Regions from separate parts of the Homo sapiens genome. Here regions 1, 2, 3, 4 and 5 are each reported to be linked to region 6. The links are microRNA targets in miRTarBase. Many come from high-throughput screens and were not tested one by one. Region 6 holds a microRNA gene; each other region holds the end of a gene's coding sequence.

Evidence for each region. The annotated mature microRNA hsa-miR-218-5p reads UUGUGCUUGAUCUAACCAUGU and lies in region 6 at 1,788-1,808, opposite strand. An mRNA with a match to its seed (bases 2 to 7 or 8) in the 3' UTR can be bound and repressed. Matches are read on the target gene's strand: a 7mer-m8 pairs with bases 2 to 8, a 7mer-A1 pairs with bases 2 to 7 and ends in A, and an 8mer does both.
Region 1: the mRNA of ACTR8 is a reported target of hsa-miR-218-5p. The part of its 3' UTR that is shown has no 7-base or 8-base seed match.
Region 2: miRTarBase lists DIABLO as a target of hsa-miR-218-5p. The part of its 3' UTR that is shown has no 7-base or 8-base seed match.
Region 3: the mRNA of RIMKLB is a reported target of hsa-miR-218-5p. Seed matches in the 3' UTR shown: 7mer-m8 at 4,451-4,457.
Region 4: the mRNA of LANCL2 is a reported target of hsa-miR-218-5p. The part of its 3' UTR that is shown has no 7-base or 8-base seed match.
Region 5: miRTarBase lists DEAF1 as a target of hsa-miR-218-5p. The part of its 3' UTR that is shown has no 7-base or 8-base seed match.

Annotation. Positions count from the first base shown.
Region 1 is chr3:53,865,385-53,869,451 of GRCh38, reverse strand. ACTR8 (actin related protein 8) reads left to right here. Exons shown (of 13, transcript NM_022899.5): 13 at 590-2,386. The coding sequence ends at 733. IL17RB (interleukin 17 receptor B) reads right to left here. Exons shown (of 11, transcript NM_018725.4): 11 at 3,658-4,067. Among named protein-coding and RNA genes, the nearest start is that of ACTR8, 15 kb to the left of the region's middle.
Region 2 is chr12:122,203,664-122,208,888 of GRCh38, reverse strand. DIABLO (diablo IAP-binding mitochondrial protein) reads left to right here. Exons shown (of 6, transcript NM_001371333.1): 6 at 312-1,221. The coding sequence ends at 508. B3GNT4 (UDP-GlcNAc:betaGal beta-1,3-N-acetylglucosaminyltransferase 4) reads right to left here and starts at 5,180. Exons shown (of 3, transcript NM_030765.4): 1 at 5,088-5,180; 2 at 4,205-4,367; 3 at 1-2,571. The coding sequence starts at 4,270. The coding sequence ends at 1,501. RefSeq lists a silencer at 4,866-5,225.
Region 3 is chr12:8,772,368-8,777,740 of GRCh38, forward strand. RIMKLB (ribosomal modification protein rimK like family member B) reads left to right here. Exons shown (of 6, transcript NM_001297776.2): 6 at 954-4,824. The coding sequence ends at 1,417. A2ML1-AS1 (A2ML1 antisense RNA 1) reads right to left here. Exons shown (of 2, transcript NR_046715.1): 2 at 3,844-4,017. Among named protein-coding and RNA genes, the nearest start is that of LINC02972, 13 kb to the right of the region's middle. RefSeq lists enhancers at 1-241, 242-741.
Region 4 is chr7:55,430,692-55,434,691 of GRCh38, reverse strand. LANCL2 (LanC like glutathione S-transferase 2) reads right to left here. Exons shown (of 9, transcript NM_018697.4): 9 at 955-3,466. The coding sequence ends at 3,372. Among named protein-coding and RNA genes, the nearest start is that of LANCL2, 67 kb to the right of the region's middle. RefSeq lists enhancers at 1,229-1,308, 1,339-1,388.
Region 5 is chr11:640,492-645,864 of GRCh38, reverse strand. DEAF1 (DEAF1 transcription factor) reads left to right here. Exons shown (of 12, transcript NM_021008.4): 12 at 1,211-1,632. The coding sequence ends at 1,315. It overlaps DRD4 (dopamine receptor D4), which reads right to left. Exons shown (of 4, transcript NM_000797.4): 4 at 5,159-5,373. The coding sequence ends at 5,262. Among named protein-coding and RNA genes, the nearest start is that of DRD4, 5.9 kb to the right of the region's middle. RefSeq lists a silencer at 2,922-3,216 and enhancers at 3,054-3,599, 4,449-5,060, 5,061-5,373.
Region 6 is chr5:168,766,424-168,771,796 of GRCh38, forward strand. MIR218-2 (microRNA 218-2) reads right to left here and starts at 1,832; the gene lies at 1,723-1,832. All of the region lies in intron 14 of SLIT3 (slit guidance ligand 3), which reads right to left.

The DNA.
Region 1 (4,067 bases), not on the chromosome of region 6:
ACTGCGAAATAAGTAAGTCATTTATTTATATATGTTCCTGTGTACAGGGTAAATAGGGTATTTGTGCAATAGTAGTAAATAGTAGCATCTTCAGTTATAAAAATTTAAAAGTTTTCTTGGCTATTGAAACAGAAAGATGCCTGTAGTTCATAAGTCCTACTGTCTTTTTTTGAGACGGAGTCTCACTCTGTCACCCAGGCTGGAGTGCAGTGGCGCGATCTTGGCTCACTGCAACCTCTGCCTCCCGGGTTCACGCCATTCTCCTGCCTCAGCCTCCTGAGTAGCTGGGACTACAGGTGCCTGCCACCACGCCTGGCTAATTTTTTGTATTTTTAGTAGAGGCGGCATTCCACCGTGTTAGCCAGGATGGTCTTGATCTCCTGATCTCGTGATCTGCCCGCCTCGGCCTCCCAAAGTGCTGGGGTTACAGGCGTGAGCCTGTATTTAATCCTGCTGTCTTTAATACAGGGTGAAAGCCTGGCTTACTAGGTATTGACTCAGCAGGGATTTTTCTCGGCCCCATATTCAAGTAAATGATTGAGTATATGTCTTATGTGATTAGGCTGAAATGCCTTCATCCCTTCTGTAGGACATGGACCCCCGGCTGATTGCATGGAAAGGAGGGGCAGTGTTGGCTTGTTTGGATACAACACAGGAACTGTGGATTTATCAGCGAGAGTGGCAGCGCTTTGGTGTCCGCATGTTACGAGAGCGGGCTGCGTTTGTGTGGTGAATGGGGAGGAAATGTCACTGCCGAAGACCAAAAACAAGCTTCTTGGTATAAAAGACTCTTACAGAATATGTGTATTGTAATTTATTGATCTGGATGCTTAAGTGTCATGGACAGTAAATGAATTTGAACTTTATGTTGAGGACATGACATTGGTTTGAAAATATAAACTGCTTTTGAGCAGTTTAGTCAGGGCATTTGAGAATAAATAGGAACTTTCTCTTCAGTTGTAAACTCTCTTGCCCTCTCTCAGGGTCTCATAAACTCCCCAGTGATGTAAACGTTGCTATTGAAGGTTCTCATGTGGTGAAGCCCTTCATTTAAGTTGGCTTGAATCTCATCAGCAGGCAGCCTCATGCAACCATGAGGGATAGTATGTGACGAGGGAGAACTGTCCACTCATGCCATTTTCTCTCTTGTCTAGTATTTCATTAGGATCTAAAGTTGTCTGAGTTAAATGCACTTATGTGACTCATGTGTCCTCTTAGAATCCCAAATAGGGGGAAAAAGTTTTGGTGGTTTTTGTTTTTTTTTTCATTTTCTGTTGGATTACAGAAAAAGAATGGGACCCATTCAGGTCTCGATTTCCAAAGGTAAAGATGGAAGGCTGGGCAGACTGGCTTTTGTTACCTGACATGCCGTAGGGTGAGCTTAGAGGAAGAAAGAAAACAATTTTTATTTGGCCAAAACAGAACAAATGCTGAAAAGGAAATCTTGTTTTTTTCCTAAAGCCAAATAGAAATGATTTGGGTATAATTTAAGAGTCCTTGTGTTGTACAGATATGGTGACTGATGTAGTTATTAATACTACCAACTTAGTCATCAAGCCTCAATTTTCCTTTACCTGAAGGATTAAGTGAAAGCTTTTGGAGTTCATGATGTTCAGTATGATCAGTTAACCTTAACCTCTGAGCATCCTGAAGCAAAATCTAAATAATGCAGCTATTACCACTGGTGGTCCAGGCTCTGGTGAAGCCCTCTGAGCCCAGGAGGAAGAGAAAGCATTGTCCAGAGGTAGGAACACAGTCTGGGAGCCCAGAGCTCTGGGAGGAGTGGGAAAATGCTGCTTCCTGCTGCTTGCTTCTAGGCACCTGCTTCCGCCATCTCACTTACCATGGCTAGAGATGGGGGTGAGACTGGGGAAGGACAAAAGCAGGGAACAGATAAGTGATGGAAATCAGAAGGGAATATAGAAAGAACTCTGGATGTGGAGAAATGCCGGTACCTGAGCATTTTGTATCAATGGGAGTACCCTCTGTAACTGCTCAGTAGGTTACAAATGAAGAGTCCACCAGTATTAGAAACAATTTAAACTTGCCAGTACCAACTGGGATGTGTGCCTTCAATTTGAAAATTGTATGTTTTATTTTTTAAATTTGTTAACAGCATTAATTTATAGAGTATTGATGTCATTTATGTTTCTGAGGTGTTTCAACACAATTTTGGATCAGCTGCCTGTTTGCAAAAACATAATATATTTCTGTTAAACAGTTCTTCACCTAACAGCATATTGCTCTTATAACTGGTAGAGCTGTTTCAAAGGAAGTTGGTTTCTGGTCCAAGTTTTGACCTAAACCATGTCCATCTTCTATTACCAGCACTTACAAGCACTGTGAAAACTGATCATGACAAATAAGTAAAATTTGCTACATTAAACATATTGCCTCAGCCATTACTAAGCGTCCACTTGTAAAGCTGGACACAGTTTTTACTTTATGCTTCATTTTGATTTTTTATCCGTAAGACATAAATTAGAAGGCATGAGGTGGCCCTTTAAGGATAATCTGCAAATATACACATTTTAATAGTCATCCATCTGAAATCGATCCACATTCCAGAGAAGATTCAGTATTGTGCTGTGTGAAATAAGCATTCCCAGAAAAAAAACATTTATGCTAATAATACAACATAACCTCTGCATTAAAGAAAAAGATGCTTTTAGGCCAGGCGCCGTGGCTCACACCTGTAATCCCTGCACTTTGAGAGGCTGAGGTGGGTGGATCATGAGGTCAGGAGATCAAGACCATCCTGGCTAACAGGGTGAAACCCCGTCTCTACTAAAAATATAAAAAGTTAGCTGGGTGTGGTGGTGGGTGCCTGTAGTCCCAGCTACTCAGGAGGCTGAGGCAGGAGAATGGCGTGAACCCGGAAGGCAGAGGTTGTAGTGAGCCGAGGTCACGCCACTGCACTCCAGCCTGGGTGACAGAGTGAAACTCTGTCTCAAAAAAAAAAAATTTAAAAAATTTAAAAAAGATGCTTTTAGAAGAGTAAAAAGTTGGAAGACAAAATGTGCATCTTTTATGTTCTGTCATTCTGTGGGGGTTTTTTCGTTTGTTTGTTTTAGACAGGGTCTGCTCTCACCCAGGATGGAGTGCAGTGGCACAATCACCGTTTACTGCACCCTTGACCTCCAGGGCTCAAGTGATCCTCCCATCTCAGCCTCCCTAGTAGCTGGGACCACAGGCTTACACCATCACACTCAGCTAATTTTTTAAATCTTTTGTAGAGATGGAGGTCTCGCTTTGTGACGTAGCCTGGTCTTGAGCGATCCTTTTGCCTTGGCCTTGCCAAAGTGCTGGGATTGGAGGCATGAGCCACTGCACCCACCCCTGTTTTTTATTTAAGTAAACCATTATAATAACTCATTTATAAAAAGGTTACTTCAAGAGGGCTTTCAACTTAAGAATTATTTTCATTTTGAACATGAAAAGTTAAATAGTAACTAAGAAACTGAGAACTCTGACAGTGACCTCTAATAGGTAACTTTAGGCAAAAGTAGACAAGTTTGTGGGTATTTTGTTGTTCATGTTAAAAGGCACCTGTACAAGAATCAAGATATGAATCTAGTTTGTAGAGGGAAGGTCTTATGCAAATACCAAATCATACAAGTGGTTACACATATAATAGATCATTTGGTCCAGTAAAAGTGGGTTCAGCTTGTTTATTCCCTACTTTTGTTATCTTAAAAACAATGATTTTTTGCATGTAATAGAAGGTTTTTCACTTAAGATGCTATTGAGTGAATCAGTGAGGGGTTCTTAGAGTTAGTATTCATTAATTAAACATAGAATATTAGCTAAACAGTTCTGGGTACACTGCAATGCATGGTCTATGGAAGACTAGATGTTTGGCTGAAGATGCTTTATTGTTGCATTATCAAAATGGTTATAGTTTTCAATTAAAACTGTAATTGATTTCTATGTATAAAACAGCTTTGAAGTTGTAAATGTAGTTTCCAATCGTTAGTTAATGCTACATTAGTTAGCAATATTTGAAAATTTTATTGGTATAAAATGTTTTAATTACTAAGGCTGTTTGTAGGCTGCATAGTAAGCTT
Region 2 (5,225 bases), not on the chromosome of region 6:
TTAAAAAAATTAATCAAAGGTCTGTACTAAAAGCTCTGTAGCTATAAAGATGATTGTGAGAGTTGCATTTAATAATTGTGATGTTGGCCGCTGACAGCTGAAGAAAAATGCTGTTTTTGACAGAGTGTCAGTTAAATCCAGACCTGAACATAGAGGTGGAAGTTTCTTTGCAGAGAGAGAAGACAGGGAGGTCAAGGAAAGTGACCCCAAGAGGGGTTCAGATGACAGCCACAGCACCCCCAGGCCAACGTCCACATGAGCCTTCCGCGCCCTGCACGGCTGCTCAACCCGATTGTCCCATCTTTTGGCAGGCGCAGATCAGGCCTCTATAACCGCCAGGAATCACATTCAGCTGGTGAAACTGCAGGTGGAAGAGGTGCACCAGCTCTCCCGGAAAGCAGAAACCAAGCTGGCAGAAGCACAGATAGAAGAGCTCCGTCAGAAAACACAGGAGGAAGGGGAGGAGCGGGCTGAGTCGGAGCAGGAGGCCTACCTGCGTGAGGATTGAGGGCCTGAGCACACTGCCCTGTCTCCCCACTCAGTGGGGAAAGCAGGGGCAGATGCCACCCTGCCCAGGGTTGGCATGACTGTCTGTGCACCGAGAAGAGGCGGCAGATCCTGCCCTGGCCAATCAGGCGAGACGCCTTTGTGAGCTGTGAGTGCCTCCTGTGGTCTCAGGCTTGCGCTGGACCTGGTTCTTAGCCCTTGGGCACTGCACCCTGTTTAACATTTCACCCCACTCTGTACAGCTGCTCTTACCCATTTTTTTTACCTCACACCCAAAGCATTTTGCCTACCTGGGTCAGAGAGAGGAGTCCTTTTTGTCATGCCCTTAAGTTCAGCAACTGTTTAACCTGTTTTCAGTCTTATTTACGTCGTCAAAAATGATTTAGTACTTGTTCCCTCTGTTGGGATGCCAGTTGTGGCAGGGGGAGGGGAACCTGTCCAGTTTGTACGATTTCTTTGTATGTATTTCTGATGTGTTCTCTGATCTGCCCCCACTGTCCTGTGAGGACAGCTGAGGCCAAGGAGTGAAAAACCTATTACTACTAAGAGAAGGGGTGCAGAGTGTTTACCTGGTGCTCTCAACAGGACTTAACATCAACAGGACTTAACACAGGCCTCTTGTTCCTTCCTTTCTTTCCGTTTCTCTATTGTATCCAAAGGAGAAGAGTGTAAGATTTTGTTTGCATCTGAAAGAGAAAATGCGTCTCTCCTGGGGTCCTATGCAGCCTCCTTCCTTGAGGTCCCAGACTGCAGCGCCCCAGGCAGCGCCCGGAATGCCCCGACAGGTTCCTGGCAGCATTTGCTACACTTTGGCTCCCATTCAACATATGCTGGACAAGTTAGCTGGGTTGCAGTGTTTTTAATCAGAGCTAACAGGGTGAGAGGAGTTAAAAAACCAAGTTGGCATTTTCTGTAGAGCAGCAGGCATCAATTTCGCATCACGATAGAGAATCAACACTGAGTCCACTCTCAGGCTGTTGCCCAACCCACCCTTCAGCGCTGGGGTATGGGGCCAGCTGCACACTTGAGCCCCTCATCTGTCACCAGTGCCCACATGGTCCACATCTCGAGGGGGCTGAGGCGGTGAACCAGCAGGAGCCCCCTATACAGGCAGGGGTCTAAGGGGTCCAGGGGCCGCCGGATTCCAAATGTCTTGAAGCCAGCATGGTGCATAGGGCTCAGCCCCAGCCGCCTCAGGCACATACCCACAAAGACATCATCAATGGGGAAGAGTTCAGCATCTTCCATGATAGCCTGGAGGCGCCGCACTGTGGCTCTGGACATGACATATCCTCCCCCACCAGCATAGGGTGGGTAGTGGGTGGCCCTGTACATTGAGGGTGGGATGAAGTATTTGACCTTAGTGTTCCTGTTGGGCAGGGCTTGGCGGATGACATCTCCCACCAGGAGGTCCTGGGCTGGGTCCCAGCCATCCAGGAACTCTAACACGTTGGGGACGTGGACAAAGACATCGTCATCTCCCTTTAGCATGAAATGGGCCTGGGGGCAGGCAGCCACCACCCAGCGCTGCAGGTGCAGCTCCTTGAGCGTCAGGTTGAAGAAGTCCTCAGTGAAGTCCCACTGGAGGATGTCATCAAACTCCCTACTCTCATAGGCCAGCAGCTGGGCTGGGGGAGCGGATCCTGCCACCCCTAGGAGGAACACCAGCTTCAGCTGCCGGCCCCTAGCCCATCCCCCCACCCTGCCCCACGTGCTGCGGATAGCCGCACGTCGCTCCACGTGACCAGGCTGTGACTTGATGGCCAGGAGCAAGAAGGTATCCTTGGAACAGCCTGAAGGCTCCAGCAAGATAGAGAAATTTCGGCAGTGACGATAGGTCAAGAAGAGACGGTGACGGCTAGGCAGGGACAGAGAGGCGCTAGACACTGTGTGGTTGGGTGGACACCGGCTGTGACGGGGTGTTGGGGGAGCCCAGAAAGGCTGGTGGGCCGTGGGGTCTCCTGCGGGCTTGGCCGCCTTCCTCAGGAAGAGCAGGCAGCCGAGCAACAGCACAGCCAAGCTGTACGAGACCAGCCAGCACAGCCTGCAGAGCATCGCCGGTCCCTGCAAGGAGAGAGCCACCTGAGCAGGGCCCAGCCCCGGGTCCCTGTCCCCAAGAGTTGGGCAGGAGTTAACCTGCACCCCAGCCGCTAAGTCCCTGCTGGCCTCTGGACTTTTTATTCTCAGCGTATCCTCAGGCTCTTTCCAGAGTCCTCCCTCCCCTGAGGATGGGCTAAGCACAGCTGCTTTGCCAGCCCTTGCCCTCCTCTGCCATCATCTGAGGACTCCTGGGTCTGTTTTTCCCAAAAGGACTTGCAGCCACTTTACAGCTGACACCATAAACGTTCCCAGCCATTCTTCCAGGAAACTCGAGCACCTGATGAGTTTTAGGCACAGACTCAGTTTAGCTTGGATCAAATTCACTAAGTGTGGAACTGACATTCAGGGCTTTTCAAGTGGGAAGTGAAACCATTTCCCAAAAAAAGCTTGGTGCCTGTGGGGTCCTGTGTTGGGCGTCTCCAAGATGACCAGGAGTGCACTGCTTCCCTCGGAGGAGAACCAGCACCACAGGGTGGCCGTGGCCACCAAAGCACACACCCTTTACACCTGCCTCAGAGGTCGGGGCTTCCAGGAGGGAGGGAGGGAGACAAAGCCACACACCACAAGAGGGGAAGCAGGAAAGCTGGGGACTTGTATCAGGGATGGCTTCCGAGGCACCCCGCCCCGCCTTCCCACCACGTTCTAAGTGCTGATTTCTCCCAGGGACCTGAAAAGAAGGATGAGGAGACAGAATCCACCAGTGTGGCCTGCCCGAGCTCCACGTAGCAAAGCCTGTCTTCAGTTTCTCATTTTTGTCCCTCTGGTGTCTCCCTCTGCCCCAGTCCCCTCCCCTTGACCTCCACTGCCAAGTCATCCTGTCCCTTCACTTCTGACCAGTCTGCCGCATTGGCCACTGCCACAGCCGCCGTCACCAGAAAAGCAACTGCTAGGTGCTAGGGATGCAGTGGCAAGCAAGACAGGGTCGCTGCCCTCTCAGAGGGGAGCACAAAACGCATAGGAACCAGGTATGTTGAGAAGTTACAGTCTAATGCAGAGAATTGGCTGACGCGGAGGACGGATCCCATAGCCAAGGGTAGCTAAAAAGCCCTCCTTGATGGAGGGACGTTTGAGCAAGAACTGAGTGAGGAATGGCACCTTGCGTGAAGACCTGGGGTCTCTGCAGGCCGTGGGCAGAGTCAGGCAGCTCCAGGGCAGGAGAGAGGGGAGAAAGAAGGGAGACGGGGGCCCAGCAGGTTTACAGTAGGAAGAGGCCAGCCCGGCTAGTGAAAGAGCTAAGGGTTTTGTTGGTTTTTTTTGAGACAGTGTCTCTGTCACCCAGACTCTAGTGCAGTGGCACAATTATAGCTCACTGCAGCCTGGAACTCCTGGGTTCAAGCGATCCTCCGGCCTCGGCCTCCCCAGTAGCTGGGACTACAGGCGTGCAGGGCCCGGCTAATTTATTTTTTGTAGAGATGTGGTATCTTTTGTTGCCTGGGCTGGTCTGGAACTCCTGGCCTCAAGCGATCCTCCCGCCTTGGCCTCCCAAAGCGTTGGGACTACAGGCGTGAGCCACCGGCCAGAGTTTTCTGAGCCCCCTGGAGATCTATGCGGGGGTGGGGGACAAGGGGGTCTGGCAGAGGCGGTGAAAGAATCTGACCTTTGGTAAAAGGCCACTCCTACCGCCCCTTCCCTGGTGGGCTGCGGAAGGCTGGGGAGGAAGCATGAACGGCAGCTGGAGACTGTCTCCGTGCTCAGGATGCCGGGCGGCGGCGGCGGCGGGGTCGAAGCGAGATGAGTCTCAGGTGTGCGAGCACCGCGGGCTGTGGACGAGAGGCCCGGGCGGGCGGCGGTGCCATTCACCGAGAAGGGCGCACAGCAGGTGGCTTGGTTCCGTCCCAGGAGGTTTCAGCCCAGGCTGCGCCGCGGCCCGGGTGGCCCCTGTCCCGCCGCGGGCGTCCCCAGGCGCTGGCCGCACGGCCTCGCCCCGCCGCCCTCCGAGCCGCGGAGACCCCAGAGCCCGGCTCTCCACCCGCCGCGGAGCGCACGACCCCGTCTGGTGGGGCGCGGGTCCTGAGGCTGCGCTCGGCCTTGGGCGGCAGCCGCCTCGGATCCCCACAGGACTCGGTGACCCAAAACGCCCTGGCGCGGGCAGGGGGCGAACTCTGGTTCATTCTTTCAACGCGACAGTCTCCGAAGGGCTGACGGCAGCAGAGACCCACTCTGCGGGGACCCCCGGGCCGGGGTTGGCAGCAGCGCTGCGCGTCGGGCGCGGGCGGCCCAGGCTGGCGGGGTCTACCGCGCCCGGCTCCAGCCTCTGTCCCCAGCCTGGAGAACCGAAGCCGAGCGGCCCGTGGGCCCCGAGCCGTGCCCGCCGAGGCCAGACTCGCGCCGCACCCGGGCGGGGCCGGCGTCCTCGCGGGGACCCTGGGGGACCGGGGAGCGGGCCGCGGGGTGCAAAGGCACGGCCGCCCTGGCGACGCCCCTCCCTGCACGGTGACCCAGCCTCCCTCACAGCAGCGGCGTCCCGGCCCCCAACCTACCTGAGCGTGACGCCGGGGTACGGGCGTGGAGCTCGTGCAGCGGAGCCAGGGCGGATGGCGCCCAGGTGCGCGGAGCTCTCGGGGCTCGGGAGTGGGCGGGGCTTCTGGAGGAGGTGGGAATTTGGGGCGGGGTTCTGG
Region 3 (5,373 bases), not on the chromosome of region 6:
CTTAAAGAGCTCTTATTTCTTTCATCAAAGTCATAGATGGATTATTATTGTTTTGTTTTTACATCAGGGCTCACTCAGCTTGGGTTATTTGTAGTATTCTACATGGCCTCAGTCTTAGAAGTGCTGTGAAGCAGAATCATTTAATTCACGGGCCAGTCTTCTACGGAGGTACCTAAAAGAAGCCTTTTGTTTCCTTGACTTCTTTATTCCTACAGCCTCAGTGGTAGGGAGGATCCACCTCACCTGTCCAGCTACTTCTGGCCTTTTTGGGGTCAAACACTACGGGTAAACTCACATGTCATCCTCACTCCTATGGATACACAGAGCTCTTGGAACCAAGCTCTTCTTAAAGTTCTTTACTTTCCTGTCCTTAGTTCAGAGCTTCGTGAAGCTGATCTCCAAGTGAGAAAATCAAGTTCTACTTCCTTTCTCTTCCTTCCTTTTGGCAAGGCCAAAGACTTCACTTATATCCAGCCAGCTACCTTATAACCCAGAAGCCTTTTGGTTTAGGAATGACAGCTAGATTGAAGTGGGGGCTATAGAGGAAGAAAACTGTGTTCACGTCACCACCTTCCCAGATTTCACCCCATCCTCCGTTCTGTTATGCATTTTTATTATTTTTATAAATCAAAAACCAATAATACTTTTGCCATCTATCAAGTGGTCTAATTGTATTTATGCTGAACTTCCTTATACTTGGTTTATATTATTGCAAGTAAGATAGACTTGGAAAAAATATTGACAACTTACGAAATCATCAATTCCTGGGAGACTGGATAGGGAGAGGATTCCTGATTAAGGAAATCTAGACTTAGAAGTCCTAATTTTACACTAGAATAACGCCTTTGTTTTCACTATTAATTTAGAAGAAAGGCTTAGCCTTGGAGGCCAACTTTAATTTTATTTCAAAAGTTTATGATTTTGTTAATTTCCTGTCTTGTTTCTTTTGCCAGGTGGTGTGGGGATGATGTGCTCATTGAGTGAACAAGGGAAGCAGCTAGCTATCCAGGTGTCTAATATCCTGGGGATGGATGTGTGTGGCATTGATCTGCTGATGAAAGATGACGGCTCCTTCTGCGTCTGTGAGGCCAATGCAAATGTAGGTTTCATCGCCTTTGATAAGGCTTGTAATCTAGATGTAGCTGGTATCATAGCAGACTATGCCGCCTCCCTTCTACCCTCTGGCCGGCTCACCCGGCGTATGTCCCTGCTCTCCGTGGTGTCCACTGCCAGTGAGACTAGTGAGCCGGAGCTGGGTCCCCCAGCCAGCACTGCTGTTGACAACATGAGTGCAAGTTCCAGCTCTGTTGACAGCGACCCTGAAAGCACGGAGCGAGAGCTGCTCACCAAGCTCCCAGGGGGCCTGTTCAACATGAACCAGCTGCTAGCCAATGAAATCAAACTACTGGTGGACTGACTCCACTGGTAATTAACCAACAAAACCCTTGTAAAACTTTCTTTCTTCTTTTCTATTTTTAAAACCAACTTGCAATGCTGTTCATGGAGGATGCTCAGGAAGATGAGAGAAAATTAGTAGGATTAGTTGGAGAGAGTGGGAGATAGATGAGACCTCTGCTAGTAAGATGTTACTTTCATTTACAAATCCTACAAATAGAGAGGCAGAATAGGTGGGGTATAGAAAAATGTCAGGCTCTCATAGTTACCCTTTTAAATTGCTAAAAAATGTGTATGCTCATAGGCCATGAGGAACAAATACTTTTTTTTTTTCATGGTCCCTTGCTTTTGTTTTTGTACAAAAAAAAATGGTTTTGCTACAAATATCCAAGTAGCATAACTTCACATTGTGTTGGAAGATTTGTCATCAGTGAGGAAAACATCTGCATAAATTACAGGAATTTTTGTATTATACAGCTCTGAAAATTCTGCCATTTCCTTATTAACTAGCAGCTTTAGTTTGTAGTTTATGAAATCTTGAGGGGCTCTTTTACTGGGATTTCTTATTTTTTTGTTTTTTCCCGCTTAATTTGGTGGGAGGTCAAATTGAATATAACCCAATAAAGGCTTCTTAATGACAAAATTGGCATGTTTGCATGATGAAATGGAAATGAACAGTATTGCAATGTCCGGTATACAAAATAACATTAATTCAATGTAGATAAAATTACACTAGTTTAAAATATGTGCATTCACTTGTATTTGTTAGTGTTTTAGTCTTTTTTGAAAGATGTGCTCTGTTAATGTTGCTTTTTTTTTTTTTTTTAATACATGCTAGTCTAACATTTCCTGCTCTATGCCTGCATCTTTAACAATGGCCAAAGTGAAGAAAATGCTACCTTTTTTGTTAACAAGACACTGACTTGAAACATGTACATTTAAAGCCTTTTATTTTTTCCCTTTTTGTTTTGGTAGTTGGGCATTTAAATAAGGACAAGGAAAAATATTTTTGGGGGCAAATCAAGAGCCTATGAGTTCTAAGTATAAAGCTGAAGTGATTTCGAATGCCAGCGTTATATATTTGCATTTTTCACATTTTACGAGGGAGTATATGTGTATGTGTGTGCACGCATGCATGTGTATGTGTTTTGCTTTTTGTTTCCATCAACTAATCAAAAAGGATAATTTAGAAAATGGAGCATGATGGGAAACAGAGTTTTTGACTTTAAAAAACAGATGAGTTGTTTTCATAAGTAGACTCCACTGGGGTAGAGGTATTCACCTTAAAACATAGGGTGAGTAGATGCTTTTTTAGGCCTTTTTGTGTATATGTACGTTGTTTGTTTTTTTCCTTTTGTTTCTAGCCTGTTCAGTGTACAGTTTATTCAAGGCTACATGCTTTTCTTTAATGCTTCTGGCTATGCATTTTCTCTTTTTACATATAGGATTTGGGATTGGGGGTGGGTTGGATGTTTTTGTTTGGGGACTTATTTAGTAGTATTGAGTCTCTTATAGCCCTACTCTTAAGCCTTCAATACTGTCCACTCTTTATATTCCTTTACTTGCAGAATTTATAAAAGCCCCCAAACTGCATATAATATGAGCCTTTAAAACATGGGTAAAACTAATCCCATTGATGGGTTTGGATGGTATGTTAAGAAATGGAGATGCTGCAGAGCCCAACGTAATTTTTTAAACAGCAAGTTTTCCATCTCCCTACGAATCCTCTGAAGCTTTTACCCAAGCCCTTTCTTGCCTCTCCAGTGCTATTTTCCTTCAGATGGACCTTAAACATAATTTCTTGGACACTACTAGAGAGACTTCGAGGCAATAATAAAAGATCAGTATTAACCAGCTATAACAGAGGTTTGATCATGCTTACTTGTACAGTTTTTCCCCCGTTTTAAAAAGGAATGTAATAAAATTTGTTTTTTCCATAGAATTAAATAATATTAAAATTGAGTGAAAGGTTGATTGTTGATGAATAGAATAGTACCTCTCATCTGTGCAGTGTCTCATTTCACCTCAGAGAAAAGGATACATAAGAGGAGTTTGTAATTTATCTTAGGATATTCTAATTGCATTTAAAAGAACTTATCTTGCGCAGGGTAAATGGGGGACTCACATACATATATTAATACCTCTGACTCATTAACAGAAAGAAATACTTGGTACTTCTTTCGCTGAATGACCATACTGTGGAGGATGCATACTATTTGGTATAGAGAAATAAATGAGGAAGAAAGAACTGCTTAATTAAATTATCATTCATATGTTCATATAGAGACCATCTGGTTGCCATGTGTATTATGACACATACACTTTGAATAGTTACATATCACAAGTATGTAGTTCATGTTTGTGTTGGTGGGGTAAGGCATCAGGAAAAATGTAGTTAGTCTTTTCTTAACTTATACCAAATTAACCAACTATATTATAGGAAATATGTGAAATTAGTTCATTAGCTTTATTCACTATTATGCATTCACATGATATTAAAACGTACACTCACATGTTAGAATGAAAAGAGCAGTAGTTATCTTAGATTTTAAAAACATGGATATCTTCTTGAATTCCTTCAAGATTGAGGTAGAGAATAAGAGCAAATCATTCTGGAAGTACCTTAAGGAAACAAACAGCAGCAGATATTTAGGTTAAACTTATTTTCATAATTGTTTAATAACTTTTGTATAATCTTCATTGCTATTATGAGAGAGAATGTATATATCAAATATGTGTAATGATAAAATCTGAATTGTAAAATTTTTGTATATTGTTAAAATTGTAATTCTAAATTGTATTTCAAAAATGATTATTTCTGATATTGTTTTTATGTCACCCATGATGAAAACTGGACTTTATATATCTAAACATACAAGTATGAACTATTCTATTTAAAATTTTTAATAGTTTTTTTCTTTTTTGGTGCCTATAATTGATTGGTCATTTCTGCTGGCTTTTCTCCAATGAACATTGAAATCTTCCTGTATATGTTACCAATAAGAAAACTACCCTGGAACAGTAGAAAAACCCAACAAGAGACTTGGCATTCATCAAGCACATTATCAGACTTTGAGAACATATTGAAGGCATTGACTTTGAAAATCATCTCTTTTTCTCAAGAAGAAAGCAATGGAGAAGCAAATTTGTTTCATTCAGTGAATCCCCAGTTTGGGGCTTGTGGGGCTTAGAGACATTGTGAAATCAAATCTTGTGTTATACTTTTCTCCTGGCTCACTTTTTTTGAGAAGGTTTATGGGCTATTTGGCTGGTGAGACACGATCCCCTCCTAAGAAAATGTAGGTGCTCAGACAGGTAACCACTGCTGCTACTGTTTTTATTTGTTTGTTTGTTCAATTTTATTTAAGATTTGTTTTTGTTGTACTAGGATTTTAAAAAATGTAATATATTGCAGGATTTATAACCAGGTTCACTGACTGCTTGCTTGCTTTCTTTTTTTTTTTTTTTTTTTTTTTTTCTTCTTAAAAAAACAAAACAAAGTTTCATTTAAAATACATTTAGGCACCTTTGGAGCTTGGATTTTGGAATGTTTCAGTAGTGGACAGAAATCTGCTGTTGGAATCTTCTAGTCTTCCAGGTTTAATTTGAAATGTTTTTAGTTTTGTTTTGGATTTTTGTGTGGTATTTTATTTCCTTTATACCAATGCCATTTTGCCATGCTGTTTTGGGGTGGCTGCCTAACTCTAGTGAAAATTCTTTCTATATTAATGAAAGTTTGGCCTTTGAAGATCCTTAATGTTTTGCATTTTTTACATTGTTTTTAAAGAAATATTCTAACTGCTTGCACTGTTACTGTTCTTTACCAGCCTTTTCAGGAGCCAAAAAAACAAATACAAACAAACAAAAAAATACCCAGAGAAAAAACTTTCCTTCTTCCCCCTTCCTGATGATGAGTGAGAAGTATTGAGAACTTTCGGGGTCAGTGCCCTTCTAAACTCCCCTTCCCCCAATAATGCA
Region 4 (4,000 bases), not on the chromosome of region 6:
ACGCGGGCTGTGAGATGCTGGGCAAGTCTGGCACTGTCTCGTCTGTGAGAAAGTGTTAATTACAACAGTCCCCCTTCCCAGTGCTGCTGTGAAAACAAAGGGCCCATCACAAGGAGGGAGCTTGATAGATGTGGCTCTTCTGACCCAGGGTTCCAAAGGTCTTGTTGTTGGAATCAAAAAGAATGTACTTATAGATAGAAACCTGCAACTAGGGCTGAGCGCAGTGGCTCACGCCTGTAATACCAGCACTTTGGGAGGCTGAGGCGGGTGGATCTCCTGAGGTCAGGAGTTCGAGGCCAACCTGGCTGATACGGTGAAACCCCATCTCTACTAAAAATACAAAATTAGCCAAGCATGGTGGCTCGCGCCTATAATCCCAGGTACTCGGGAGGCTGAGGCAGGAGAATCGCTTGAACCTGGGAGGTGGAGGTTGCAGTGAGCCAAGATTGCGCCATTGCACTCCAGCCTGGGAAACAAGAGTGAAACTCAGTCTCAAAAAAAAAAAAAAAAAAGAAAGAAAAAGAAACCTGCAACTAGAACATCATAAGGCGAGCAACTGCCACTTTTTTTTTTTTGAGATGGAGTCTCCTTCTGTCACCAGGCTGGAGTGCAGTGTTGTGATCTCAGCTCAGTGCAACCTCCAACCTCCACCTCCCCAGTTCACGCGATTCTCCTGCCTCAGCCTCCCGAGTAGCTGGGACTACAGTGTCCGCCACCACGCCCAGCTAATTTTTATATTTTTAGTAGAGATGGGGTTGCACCATGTTGGCCAGTATGGTCTCATCATCCGCCCAACTCGGCCTCCCAAAGTGCTGGGATTACAGGCATGAACCACCATGCCCAGCCGCAACTGCCGCATTTTTAAGTGAAGAATCCAACCTTCGGAACAGTCGCCATTGCTCCTAACCAATGTCACTCTCAAACACGGAGAAATGAAAACGAATGACGATTCCATAGGTCATCACCACAGAACTGGCTTTTACTAACAAAACCAAAGAACCTCAAACACTTTTTGTGGACTTCAAATTCTTTCCTTCAGATTTTAAAATGACATTATGCATGTACATATTTTTAAAATTTAGACACATTTTAGAGAACACAATTGTGAATACAAATCTAAGAAATGAATGAGATGTACTGAAATCTGATTCAAACACTTATCTTAAACTGACTTCTGTCAATCCTCTGTCCTGTGAAGTAAGTCCCGTTTCTCCTTTGCCTGGAGGGACCGAGCTGGAATTACTGTCACATGTTACAGACATGAGGCAGGGGTTAATGCAGAACCACGGAACAGCACCTCTGATGACATCTAGTGGATAAGTAGGAAGGTGTCAACCCAGGTGGCTTTTAAAAAAATCTGTAAATAAAATCTCCTCCTTTATTCCACAGATTTTAATCTTTCCCTCAGTGTGTTAGAAAGACTAATAGTGTTTTTCAAACGTGTGTGGATGGACTCACCTGGGGAGACACCCGCATCCTAGGCCACCTTTGTGGCTGCTCTGCAGACACCTGGCTGCACCCGCTGCCTCCTCGTCTGAGAGGGGCTGCCCTGGAGAGCACCGTGCTGGCTGTGTTGCCTACTGGCTTCCCTTGAGAAATGGGGAGGCAGGACCTCTACTGAGTGCTGTGATGTGTTATGTTTTGATGTGGTGGGTGGGGAGGATGGGAACAATGTTATTTGGATGAGATTGGACATCGTGTGAGGTCTTCAGCAAAGCAGCTACCCTCAGCTCATTGACGACAGCATCCTGCCTGCAGGTGTGGGCTGCTGGACTGCCTGCAAAGCCCATCAACAGGCCCTGGAGGCCAGGTAAAATAGGATCAGGATGATTTCTATTCACAGAAGTCATCAATCTAACATGAAAGAAAATAATGACTCAGGAGCAAGGGTGTCTGCAGCAAACAGACTCTCCAGGCATCGTTTAGAAGCTGAATGTCACACATTTCGGGTGCCAGCCCCACACATAACCACACAAGTAAAAAGGAAGCTTTTCTCCTAAACTGACATTCTTTTTTCTCTTTTCTGAGAGGTGTGGACACTGGGGCTGGGAAATGCTCAGGCCTCCCCCTGCAGACAAGGACTGGGCTGTTAAGAGAGGCCTCTTGTCTTTCATGACACAAGCCTTAGCTCACAAGACGAGAAGTACCTAGTCCCAGACCACCTCTTCCATGATGACAGAAACCCTTCTAAAAACTGAAATCTATGTGATAGAATTAATGAAGGTAGGCTAACCCAAATTACTGCTCACATTTTTTCAAATAAAAGTCACACAAATACCATAATGTTGTTGGTTAGAACATTATGTTTCTCATATCTATAAATAAGGGCTAGTACTTTTTATCACCCAAAAGTAGACAAAAAATAGGAAATGCATTCATTCCAAATTTAGATTTTGATAACTTTCCAAAAGGTTGAAGTAAGTTTAATTGCAGGGACATGAGTCCAGTTGAGTGTCTTTCTGTTAATCTGCAATAACCCATCTGGAACTGTATTTACTTTTCTTAGAACAGTAACTTATAATGTTGATAAACTGAGGTGGAGCCTGTTTTAGTAACATATACCTGGGTAAATGTTCTGGAACTGCCAGTGCTTAGTCACTGCTGCCTACAGTGTGGCCATCAAAGGCTTCTTGGGAAAGCTCCCTTTGGGTCCAGAAGTCTCCCCAACAAAGCTCCAGCTGCCCTGGACTCTACACAAAGCACCTGAAGCCTCTGCTGGGAATGGGGCCCTGACAGAGCTGCAATGCACTCTGAGGCTTCTTTAAAACACGAAGGTGAGTGTAAAATCCAAACGGGAAGCGTTCAGCTGTGCACTCCCAAACCACCCCAGCACGCCCCTGCAGAACTGCTGGTCCTGTCCGTCCTTGGAGTGGTCGCTCCCTCATTCTCATCTGGAAGGTGCCACAGAAAAGGCTGACAATGTATTATCACTAGGATAGACCCTAGATAATCTTTCTGATATACAAGATAGACACCACCTGTTCCCTCATTTGTCAATATGGAAGAAACCCCACTTTATACATTTTATACAGAAAAGTGGACACTGCCATACATTCATGCATGGTCAGCTCTGAGCCCTCAGGAATAGAAGGGCCTTCCATTTAAAACAGCTTACACCTGGAGACAACAAACACCAAGAAACATGCAAACACTACAGAGAATCTGTATGTGAAGAAGTCATATTTTATATTGATGAGGGTGCTGTTAGAAAATGTTGATGGATGGCTTCGGTCACTCATGCTAGTCTAACCAGAGGGGCCTGTGACGGTGTCTGCTTCTCTTTCAGGATTCCCAGTTGTTTCTGTGTCAGGCACTAAGCAATCTGGTGGCTTTTGGTCCAAATGGGTATTTTAGTTGTCTTTTTGCACCTTTTAATCCCTCTTCGAAGAGTCAAGTTCAAATGCTGGAAACCGTGATGTCTCTGGTCCCAGGACATCAGAGAGAAAGTGAATAGCGCCAGCCATGCCTGCAATGTAAAATGAGGAGCCTCTTAGGAATGGCATAAGGGTAGTGTCTATAACAGTGACTTTTAATCATTTCCCTTACCAGGGGCTGCAAGCATGTGGGAAAGGTGCTGAGGACTCTAAAGATGACTTCATTAAAAACCAAAGATATCCTTATATTTAGCACCTGGCAGGTAATATAATAACACCAGTTTTCCTCACTATCTTATATTTAAAAAACTGGTTACTGGGCTTTAATCTTATATCTTGAAACTTTAAGGTGGCATCACAGAATCGCTATGGAAGTTATGGATGCTGCTAATTACGATATTCCTATACACGGAGCTTCCCCTCAGAGCCTGTATATGCTCAAAGTTGCATTTTATATCTTCTTGATATTTGAAGAATGTTATTTTTAACAAACCTCAATTTGGTCAAAATCCCCACCCCAAATCATTGCAGTAATTGAGCAGTGGGTTTTCAACTAGACTCACAGCAGCTTAGGAAGGGTGTGGGGTGGAGAAGGTGCTAGTAGCCCACCAAGGCCTCCAGGTCTC
Region 5 (5,373 bases), not on the chromosome of region 6:
ATCACGCCCCCGTGCACGGAGCTGCCTCTGTCTGACGAGGCCGTCTCAGCTTCAGCACCTGGCGCTTCCTCTAGAGCTCTGCTCCATTCCGAGGTGCTCGACGTAGCAGGGAGGCAGAGCCTGGTTCTGTGTGCTGACCTCACAGGAGCTGTGGCTTCTCCCAGGCACCATCCCCCACCTCCTTTCTCTGCAGCCACGGGCTGGTTCCAGTTTGCTTTTTCATCTTTGCCATTAAAAACAGAACTGGGGCGGGGCGCAGTGGCTCACACCTGTCATCCCAGCACTTTGGGAGGCCGAGGCGGGCAGATCCCCTGAGGTCAGGAGTTCGAGACCAGCCTGACCAACATGGTGAAACCCTGTCTCTACTAAAAATGCAAAACATTAGCCAGGTGTGGTGGCGTGCACCTGTAATCCCAGCTGCTAGGGAGGCTGAGGCAAGAGAATTGCTTGAACCCAGGAGGCAGAGGTCGTGGTGAGCCGAGATTGCGCGTTACACTCCAGCCTGGGAAACAAGAGCGAAACTCTGTCCGAAAAACAACAAAAAAACCCCCACAGAACTTGATCGTAATTTACATATGTAATATTTACATATTTAAATGTTTTTCTGCATGTGTGATATTTTTTGTTTACATCCCTAACACAAAACAACTGGTTTGGAGAGTCTTACCCTGGTTTGTTGTTTGACTTTTTTTTTTTTTTTTTTTGATATGGAGTTGTTCTGTCACCCGGGCTGGAGTGCAGTGGCACCATCTCGGCTCCCTGCAACCTCTGCCTCCCAGGGCTGAGCAGTTCTCCTGCCTCAGCTTCCCGAGTAGCTGGGATTAGAGGTGCCTGCCACCATGCCCAGCTAATTTTTGTATTTTTAGTAGATACGGGGTTTCACCATGTTGGCCAGGCTGGTCTCGAACTCCTGACCTCAGGGGATCCACCCTCCTGGGCCTCCCAAAGTGTTGGGATTACAGGCGTGAGCCACCGTGCCCTGCCTGTTGTTTGCCTTTTGATCCAATTCCTCAAACCAAGAGAGTGTGGGGAAGGCTGTATTGGAGCAGAGCCCACCAGAGTTTGGGCGCACGGGGGCTGGGGAGGGCATTCTCAGCACCTCCAGGTGAGGTTACAGAGGGCTGCACCCTCTGGGGTCTGCCTTGGGGACCCTGCCCAGACCCTGCTCCACCCACTGACCCTGCTGACATGGGTGTGTCCTCCCTTCCAGGACTGGAAGGATCACCAGCACATATGCGGCCAGTCAGCAGCTGTCACCGTCCAGGCAGACGAAGTCCACGTGGCTGAAAGCGTGATGGAGAAGGTGACCGTGTGAGGCTCCATCGGCCGCCCTGGGAGCTGGGGCCCCTCGCACTCCTGTGAGGCTTTTGCAGGTCGAAGGCCCCCCTGAGGACTCTGGGGGGACGTTGAGAAGAGGGGTGTGGGAAGGTAAAGAAACTTGCTGGACAAGTCATTAACACACTTTAAGCGAATGGTGCCCTGGGAAGCGCACTCCCCCTGCCCGGGCCCCCTGCCCGCTCGCGGACAGATTTTTTATCCCTGGGATCATGAGCGTCCGGTCTTGCCCACAGGGCCTGTGCTGCGACGCACATACATACGTGTTGTGTCTGTCAATAAAGTGTAAATAAGGTCTCCCTGCCCCACACGGCCGGTTGCAGTGCCAGCCCTCGGGGGGGGGTTTCCTCCCCTTCCTCCTACTGCGCAGGTGGGAAAACCAAGCCCACCGCACCTCTGGTGCACGGGACAGCGCGGCCAGGCCGGAGCCTCCGGTGCACGGGGCAGCGCGGCCGGGCTGAAGCCCTGGCGTCTGGTGGCTCGTGTAGTCCAGGAGGTCTTCGTTCCTTCTGTTCCACGAGACCCTCGTGGCTGCTGGGAGGTGCAGCAGGCCTACGGCCCTTCCCGCCAGGTTTCGGGGCACATGGTGCCTCCTGTGCCCTGGCTGCTTGAGCGAGCCCGACGGTCCAGCACGGCCTGTTCAGTCCACGTGGACAGCTTGGTGGCCTCGGTCCAGGGATCCACACGCAGAGCCTCATGGCCTCCTGGTCTCCCCCTTGTTTCTCATGGCCCTGGCGCCAGGTGGAGGAGAAAGGGCTGAAGCCTGTGGGGGGCACAAGGGGGCGTGTCCAGCGTGTTTGGGCACTGGGCTGGGCCTGAACATGGGACCCCCCTGCCCTCCTGACCAAGAGCGCTGCTGGAGCAGCATCACTCTTGTTCTGGAAGCTTCTGCCCTCATGGCCTGTGTTCTCTGCACACAGAAGGCTCCATGGCTGTGGCTGCCTTGGGGCGAGAAAGTACACACTCAGCAACAGCTCAGCAGGCACCTGGGGTAGGGTGGCAGCGCCAGGAGGAACCTGCACCAGTGATTCTGATGTTTGCCTCTGAAGCGCTTTCTGCACCAGCTGGAGCTGAGCCCGAGAGGTGGCCAAAGCCCCCTTGGAAGGGGATGTTCACTGGGCCCCGCAGAGGCCCCCCGATATTTTCAGTCTCTGGGTTTCTCAGGACCACCTGGTTTATTCCGGTTTTCTTTTTTTTTTTTCTTTGAGACAGAGTCTCACTCTGTCACCCAGGCTGGAGTGCGGTGGCACAATCTTGGCTCACTGCAACTTCGCCTCCCAGGTTCAAGCGATTCTTCTGCCTCAGCCTCCCGAGTAGCTGGGATTATAGGTGGCCACCAGCACACCCAGCTAGTTTAGGGATTTTTAGTAGAGACGGGGTTTCTCCGTGTTGGCCAGGCTGGTCTCGAACTCCTGTCCTCAGGTGATCCACCCACCTCGACCTCCCAAAGTGCTGGGATTACAGGTGTGAGCCACCGCCCTGGCCTATTTACTTAGTAAAGTCTCTGCCCAGCCAGGCCAAGCCCTCACTGATGTTTCATCATCCTGCTCAGGCGTGCCCGGTGCTGCACCGTTGGTGCTGCCAGTGAGCAGTGGAGGCTGGAAAAGGTGTCTGGGCTGCTGCAGGACGCGCTCCAGATGCTGCACCTCACCCCACCTGCCCCTCACCCCGCCTGTCCCTCACCCCGCCTGGCCCTTCCTGTGACCCTCAGCCCGCCTGGCCCTTCCTGTGACCCTCACCCCGCCTGGCCCTTCCTGTGACCCTCAGCCCGCCTGGCCCTTCCTCTGACCCTCAGCCCGCCTGGCCCTTCCTCTGAGACTCTACAATGGCTTTTCATCCAACCCAGCAGGGTCTGCCATTGCCGCAAGGTGGAGGCATCTCAGAGGCCCTGCTTGGCCTTGCCCTGTCCAGGCAGGCGGGCCGTGGGTTGACCTCCATGAGACAGCAGGGCTGGGCCTGCTCCTTTGGGTTTTAACCAACATAAAGGTGGCAGGCAATTGAGGACCTGCACCTCTTAAGAATAATCCCCCAAAGCTGAGAACACCAGCATCTCTGCAGAGAGCACAGCTGCAGGAAGTAGCTGAACCCCTGCCTGGTGGGGGAGGCACCGTGGGAGCCCTCTGGCACAGTGACCCCCGCCAGCAGTGATGCCACCTGGCTTCCTGCGCCAGGCCCTGCAGGAATGGAGTGGGGGTATTCCCTGGAATTGTGGGGGCCACTTACTCTTCCCCAACTTTCCGTAAAACAGAAGCCAAGCACCACGCGTCTGTTGGGATCCCAGGTTTCCACAGCTCCTCCTTTCCAAGCCTGGGAGGCTGATGGTCAGAGGTCGCCCTGCCCCAGGGCTGTCAGCACCCCCAGGACCCCCAGATGCATGTGCACCTCCCATGGCCTCCAGCGCTGTCAGGCACGTGTGGGGCTGTGGGTCCTGGGACAAAGCTGGCGGGAGCCCCTCCTTCACTCTCACGGGTGTCTGAGAGGAATCCACTGTGACTCAGTCTGTTCCGGGGGTGACTGGGACAGGCTGGTCCTGGGAAGCAGGTAGTCGGAGAAGGTGTCCTGGAGGAGGCAGCCGCTGAGGCCATCACAGAAGTGCGTGGTCACCAGACGGGACGGGGCAGCCGCACTAAAGTAGTAATTGGGCTTGGTCCTCTCTCCACCCAATACTCGTTTTCTTTTCTTTTTTGAGACAGGGTCTCCGTCACCCAGGCCGGAGTGCAGTGGCACGATCTCGGCTCACTGCAGCTTTGACTCCCTAGCTTTAAGGGATCCTCCTGCCTCAGCCTCCCGAGTAGCTGGGATTACAGGCGTGACCACCACACCCAGCCTGCACTGAGTATTTTAGCAAGCTGAGGTTGTGCCCAATGCTGTAGACTGCACAGCCCACAGTCTGTCAGTGTTCAGATGGGAGCCTGGCACCCTGACTGGCCACCCTGGCTGCAAACGCCGAATCCCCAGCACAGGAAAGTTCCAGCCAGCACGATTGGGAGGCGGAGGGTCCCCCATTTCTCCCACAACCTGGGCCTGGGAGAGAGCTGGATCCAGTCCAGGGTAGGCTGTTCCTGCATGGAGGGCCCTGGGAGCCGCCCCTCTTCCCCCAGGGTCAGGGGCTGCACTGGTTGATGGAGCCAGGGTGCAGACAGGCAGCTTGGGTCGCTCTGCCCAGCCCCTGGCCCCGCTGCCGCCTCCCTGCTCCCACCCCTTGGCCCAGCCACATTGGTGGACGCTGGGCAGAGGTTGGCTGGGCACCAGGGGTGACTGAGCACGGAGCTCCCTCCAGGGAAGCCACTTGGTGGGGCCCCACCCATCACCACAGGCCCCTTGCTGTGGGGCTTGGGGCATCCTCTGGCCAGGGACTGGCAGGAAGCTAGGCTCTGGCCTCAAGGCAGCTTCTAAAATGACAGGTTGGGCTCCCCTGCCGGGGTCTGCTGGGGCAGCATGAGCCTGGAGCCCCCTGTGCCTGGTTCTCAGAGGTGGGAGTTGGCCCGGGCAGGGCCTGGCGGCTGACAGCCCCCCACCCCGCCTCTCCCCATTTGTTTCTTCCCATCGGAACTGGGCTTCCCCAGGAGACACCTTGCCCTGCTGGGTGCTGCTTCCTCTCCCCTGCAGAGAGGGGAAGCTGGGCCCCAGCGCTGCGGAACTGAGTGGCTCTCGGGGGCCCCTTCCCCCCTCACCCTGAGCAGGCGGCCGGCTTGGTGGGGTCTGCTCTGTGGGCTTCCTTGGCGGGGAGAAAGAGGTTAACTGGCTGGGGGGCCTGGGGCCACTGAGGCAGAAACCCCTCTTCCCCACTCCCCATCAGCCCCCAGGAGCCTTCACAGCTGAGTTTGGGAAGGAATTTGTTTAATTAACGTACAAAAGCGCCCTCCCCATCTCCTTGGTCCCTGAGGCCTGGCCATCAGGCCGGGGGGCGTCCGGGGGTGCCCGGCTCAGCAGCAGGCACGCAGGGCCTTGCGGAAGACGTTGCGGAACTCGGCGTTGAAGACAGTGTAGATGACGGGGTTGAGGGCGCTGTTGACGTAGCCCAGCCAGGTGACGGCG
Region 6 (5,373 bases):
CATCCACTCATGGGCAAGGCTGGGGGACCAGCTGCCAGTGGCTGGAAGATGCCAACTGTTTTACTAGGAGTTTGGTCACCAGTTGGGCAGGGAGCCGTCCTAGTAAGCTATCCCCTTTGGAGTCTATTATGAGTGCAGCCATCTGCCTGAAAACAGAGGGAAATACCCATGGTCTGAGGCTGGCACTGCCTCATCACAGCCTGTGGCTGCGGGGCCAGTAAAGCACTGATGGAAGGGCACCATTATGGACCCACTCCCAGAGGCCTGGTCCCTGCCATGTTAGGGGCAGTGCCGAGGGCCTCAGAATGCCCCTCTCTGTAAGGTGGGAAAGGGAACTTCTCCAGGCTCGAGGATTTGCTCTGTGTTAAATGGGATCTTTGTATGTCCATGCTGGAGAGGAACAGCCATTTGAATAATGCTTTCTCTCTTACTCAAGTTCTTTCTACTAACAGATGAAAGTCTGAAAGGGAGAGTTTAAGCAAATTTCAAGTCCCTATCAAATCACAGTTTTTAAATGTTCTAATTCAAGGCAATGGGGTTGTCCACAGCTGGGAAGGTGGGTATTACAGCAGTACAGTGCAGCCATTCTGGAATCAGATGACCCTGGGTAAGTTAGCTAACCTCTCTGAGCCTCAATATCCTCATCTGTAAAGTGGGACTTTAGATTTTGTGAACATTAAACAAGGTAATGATGTGAAAACAGTTCACTGCCTGGCCTATAGCAAGCACTCAATGTATGTTAAAAAACTACTAAGCAATGGTTGGGCTCCTGGTTCTGAGGGGTAACCTCAGATAGACGAGGTAATAAGAGTCACACCTCATGATGGGGGCCCAGGGCTCAGCTTCTAGTTCTGAGCTAGGCTAAAGTTCCCACCTTAGCTCTCTCTTGCAGAATAGGACAAAGACTCCAGGACAGGAATGAACAACACAGTCTTCTGGTTACACTGGGTCTAGGATTTATCAAGGAACAAGCAAAATAAGAGGTACCAAGATCCCTCTCTTTATTATCAGAGATAGCAGGTTTCCACGTCCACACACACTCCCCTCCCCTGAAACAGAATTAGCACCAGGTGAGGAGCCCAGCACCTCCACGTTAACTGTGCTTTGCAGGTCAAGGAAACAGACTGGACTTTAGGTTTCATGGGGTTCAGGGACTGTGTTTTCATAAAGTATGGGAATGAGGTTCAGAAGGAACCTTGGGTTAAACCCAAAGTCTCAGACTCACATGAGTTTCACCCATTCTCATGCTGACGTTCATTTCAAATAAAGTGAATACCAATAAAGGTGGTGGTGGGAGGGGTCGGGGGTCACAAGCAGTAGGAATTCCCCTTTGGGTTAGCTGCCACTTGGAAAAATGACCTTGGGTTGGGACTCTCCCATGAAACCATGGGGCGTATGCCTTGGGTATACTTGTTCCCTTCCAGTGGAAGAAGAGACACAGTAGTTTCTGAGCTTGAACCTAGTTATTACTCCTTGTCTGACATCCAGACTAGATTTGGGGGAGGGTGACTCCATTTTGGGAAAGAGATGTGGATACAGATCTCTTTCCCCAGGGTGCTTCTCCAGACCCATTTCCCTCTGTATCTGCATCCTTTGAGACTCCTACCCTCCTGCCTTTGGTGAGTTGAGACTGGGAGAGGTGGGTCTGGCAGGTGGTGGGCTGCGGTGCTCCAGAGCAGAGGAGAGGTGTCCAGCGGTGGTGGCGGCGGTGGCGGGCCATGCTGCAGGAGAGCACGGTGCTTTCCGCGGTGCTTGACAGAACCATGTTCCGTTTCCATCGTTCCACCACATGGTTAGATCAAGCACAAAGGAAAGCCCCGCAGCGACTGGTCAGAGTCAAGGTCAGGAAGCAGCGTCAGAGAGAGGACAGGAGCGCTCAGAGGAAGCAGCGTGGAGAAGCGGAAGCCGGAGCAGGCCCCCACTGAGCGTGATTAGTATCAGGAGTGGGGTTCCACTGGAACACTTCCGAAGATTGCAGCCCTGCTGCCCTTGTGCCCCACCCCAGGGAGACACAGTAGGAAGGGAGAAGAACGGGAGGGAAATCACTGGATGCCCATACTCGGGAGCTTCAGGACAGCATGGTTCCTTCCCAAGGAAAGAAAGAACACTCAGACATCTGTGATCCTATCACATGCCTGAATTGAGCCTCTAAACTCCATTCAGTCACACCAGTTGGTCTGACAAGACATTAAACTTAGAAAAGCATCTTCTGCATGCTTTGCAACATAGGCCCAATCCCCCCAACAGCTGAGTGGTTCCATCACAGTCATTCCTCTAGCCCCTTAAGTCAAGAGACAATCCACAGTTCCCAGTGGTCTAGCAAACCTTCAATGCTGTTCTTTAGGAAAAAGCCCCCTTTGACATTCCACAATTCAGGAGTCTCCTTTATATCCTTTGAGGTCAGCAGGAATGCTCTGGCTGATAGACACTCATCCCAGATCATTTGAGGTTTAATAGAGGAGCAGTGGGGTGTCAAAAGAAAATATATCTCTCTAGCCAGAGAGAAAGACAGGAAAACAAATGGGGCCGTAGGGTTTGGACTGAGGAACCTGCAATCATAGTTGTTGTTTGAGAACACTGACTTTCACAGAGATGGTGGCCAGTGCGCCTCCTGATGAAGGGCCTCTTTGAGACTAAGAGAAGGAAGGAAAGGGAAGCCAAGTGATGAGTCTGAGGGGAAGACACTGAATTCTGGGGTCCTTCTTGATTTCTTGTTCTCTTCCTTAGCTGGAAATTATGGGAGCGAACAGGATGAACCAATAACCACTGTCAGGATGCCAAAGGCCCAGGTGAGGGTACCCAGTTTTTATATTCCTCTCTGTGATAGATCAGGGTCAGTTTCCATGAACCTGCTGACTTGGGACTTCCTCCCACTTGGCATTAGGCTGGAGATGTGCATCTTGAAGAAACTGGAGCTAAGGCTAAGTGACTGAGACCCTCCCTGCCTGACCTCTGACATGAGAACCAGTATCAACATTCTTCCACTATGTGTTTTTGGGACTGGGCATATCCTCTAGATGGTCTCAGCATCTCAACGGTGCATAGGTTGTCTGCCATGTTGGACCAGTTAGGAAGAGCCAGCCCACAGCTCTGGGTCTGTCTGGCCTCTCCTCCTTCCTAAGGTCTCTCATCACACGCACTAGAGTCAGCCACTAGAATCTGGACTCCACTCTGCTTTGACACCTATGCAGGGCTCTGTGAACACTGTGGTTCTGGGACTTCAAATGTGAGTTTGATTAGGACCCTGGTACAAGAGCAGGGGAAATCCATCCTGTTCGTGCAAACCGCCACCCTCACCAAGCCTTAAAATCTAATTTTCTTTCTCTTTGGTTTCTTCCTACAAAAAGAAATGGAGGGATTTGTAGGTAAATTATCAAGAGTCTTCACAGTATGTCAGAAGTCCTGGGTTTCAGATCTTGCCCTAAAAATAATACTCAATACCTTAGATAAGATTTTTCTGCTGTGTGGACCTCAATTTATCCATCTCTAGAATAAACTGGATGACCTCTAAGGTTTCTAAAAGTTCTGTAATTCCTTGAGAGCTATCTTGCTGTTCGCCGTCTTTGGACACTTTGCGTCACCACCCTCTGTACTTTTCAGCAAGAGAGTTTCTTCTCACACAAAGCGGGGAGGCATGAAGGAAGACAGACAGCACCCTGCAACTGCCAAGTGCTCCCAGGGATGGGCTTGGGGTCCCAGGCAGCCAGACGGAGCCTTTTCAGGAGGACTTAATCTGATGGTCAGATTACCCCAGCCGGCAGCATCCAACCCTAAACTGATCTTGCTGCCCAAGGCGGCGGATGCAGCTGATAGAGAGAGGCAGACACAGGCAGCTGGGAAACCAGACGCCCTGCCTAAGGAGGGGCAGGATGTGTTACGGAGCAGCCCTCAAATTGCCTCCTAATTACATCAGCTGTCTTTTCAATGGGGGTGCTTTTAGGAAAAAGTAAAACGCAGAGTTATTATCTGTCACATCCAGTCTGTGTCACCTGCCCCCCTTCTTTCTTCTGGAGCTTCCTGGAAACACAGAGCTTTACATCTATGGTTTTTCTTTCCCTCCAAGGCCAAGGCAGGTCTGGAACCCCATGTTTCTCAAAGCCAAGGCCTTTGGAGCTCAGCAGTCATGCTTTCTTTGCAATGACATAAAATAAAAGCAAATAGAGTGCTACGTGTCAGTCTCATGCTAGCTCCAAACATCTCTACTTTTTAGGAATAATCTTTCGCTTAGCATTGTTTTTTTTTTTAAAAAAGGTATCTTAGAGTCAATCCAAGAACCTGGCTCCTTCTCCCTGTTTCTTTTTTAAAATGTTCAGCTTCCCCTCCCCCACATAGGAAAAGCAGCCAGGATCCTGCAGATCTACAGGTAGGACGATAGTGGCAGAGCTAGAGTTAGAACTAAGCTCTACTGCTTCCTAGGTCCACTTTCCATTTTCCTTTTCTCCTACTTAGTTCTTTCTATAGCCCCACCCCCACCTTGCCACCCCCAACCACAGTCATGCCCAGAAAATTGCCAAGACTGTGTTCCTGGGGAGATACCAGTCCTTGGATCCTGCACTCTTTCCCTGCTGTGCCACGCAGGGCCGCCACATCCATTTGGGGTCCAAAGTACTAACAGGATACTTATGAGACCAAAGGGTCAAGGTTGGCAGATAATACCCTGCCCTCCTCTGGCTCTCACTGTCCTTCTTTTTGGGTACCACTGTTTGGCAGAGCTAATTAACTCAGCCCTGGCCAGACAGGGGTAGGAATAGAGGCCAAGGTTGGCGTGAGTCATGAGGAAAGGTGCTGGGGATAGGACGATTGTGCTTTGGGTGAGATTTTCTTTCCAGAGATGTTGCCAGGCCCAGGAAGGAACCTGAGGACAGTGTTCAGGGAGCGGGTAGGGGTGGGAGCATGAGACCAGGGAAGGAGGTCATCCAAGCAGCTGATTGTCATCCCCAAATATTCCTTCTCTCCCAGATGCTGTGTGGTGTGAGGACCAAAATGAACCTGAGGTTTAGTCCTGCCTCCGCTGTTTGCTGGCTTGTGAACTTGGAGTGCCCCTTCACCTCTAAGTCCTCAGTTCCCTCTCCTATAGAGCAAAGGGCTCTCCTACTGACTTCCCAGGACCATTGGAAGAAGCAAATCAGACTAGAAGCCTCCAGTACCACGCTCATCGCAGGTGAAAGATGGCTGTTGTAACTGACATCATTATTCTAGGGAAGGGAAGTCGGTACCAACTTTTCACAGTGCCACAAAGTCTCTGTATTATCTCCAAGCCCTCCCAAGGTATTAGTTTCTGTTAAAAAAATTTAAAGAGCTAAAGCTTATCATTCTGGAGACATGGACTAAAGAATTTGACTTAAAGGACAAGAAGATGTTGTAAGAAGCACA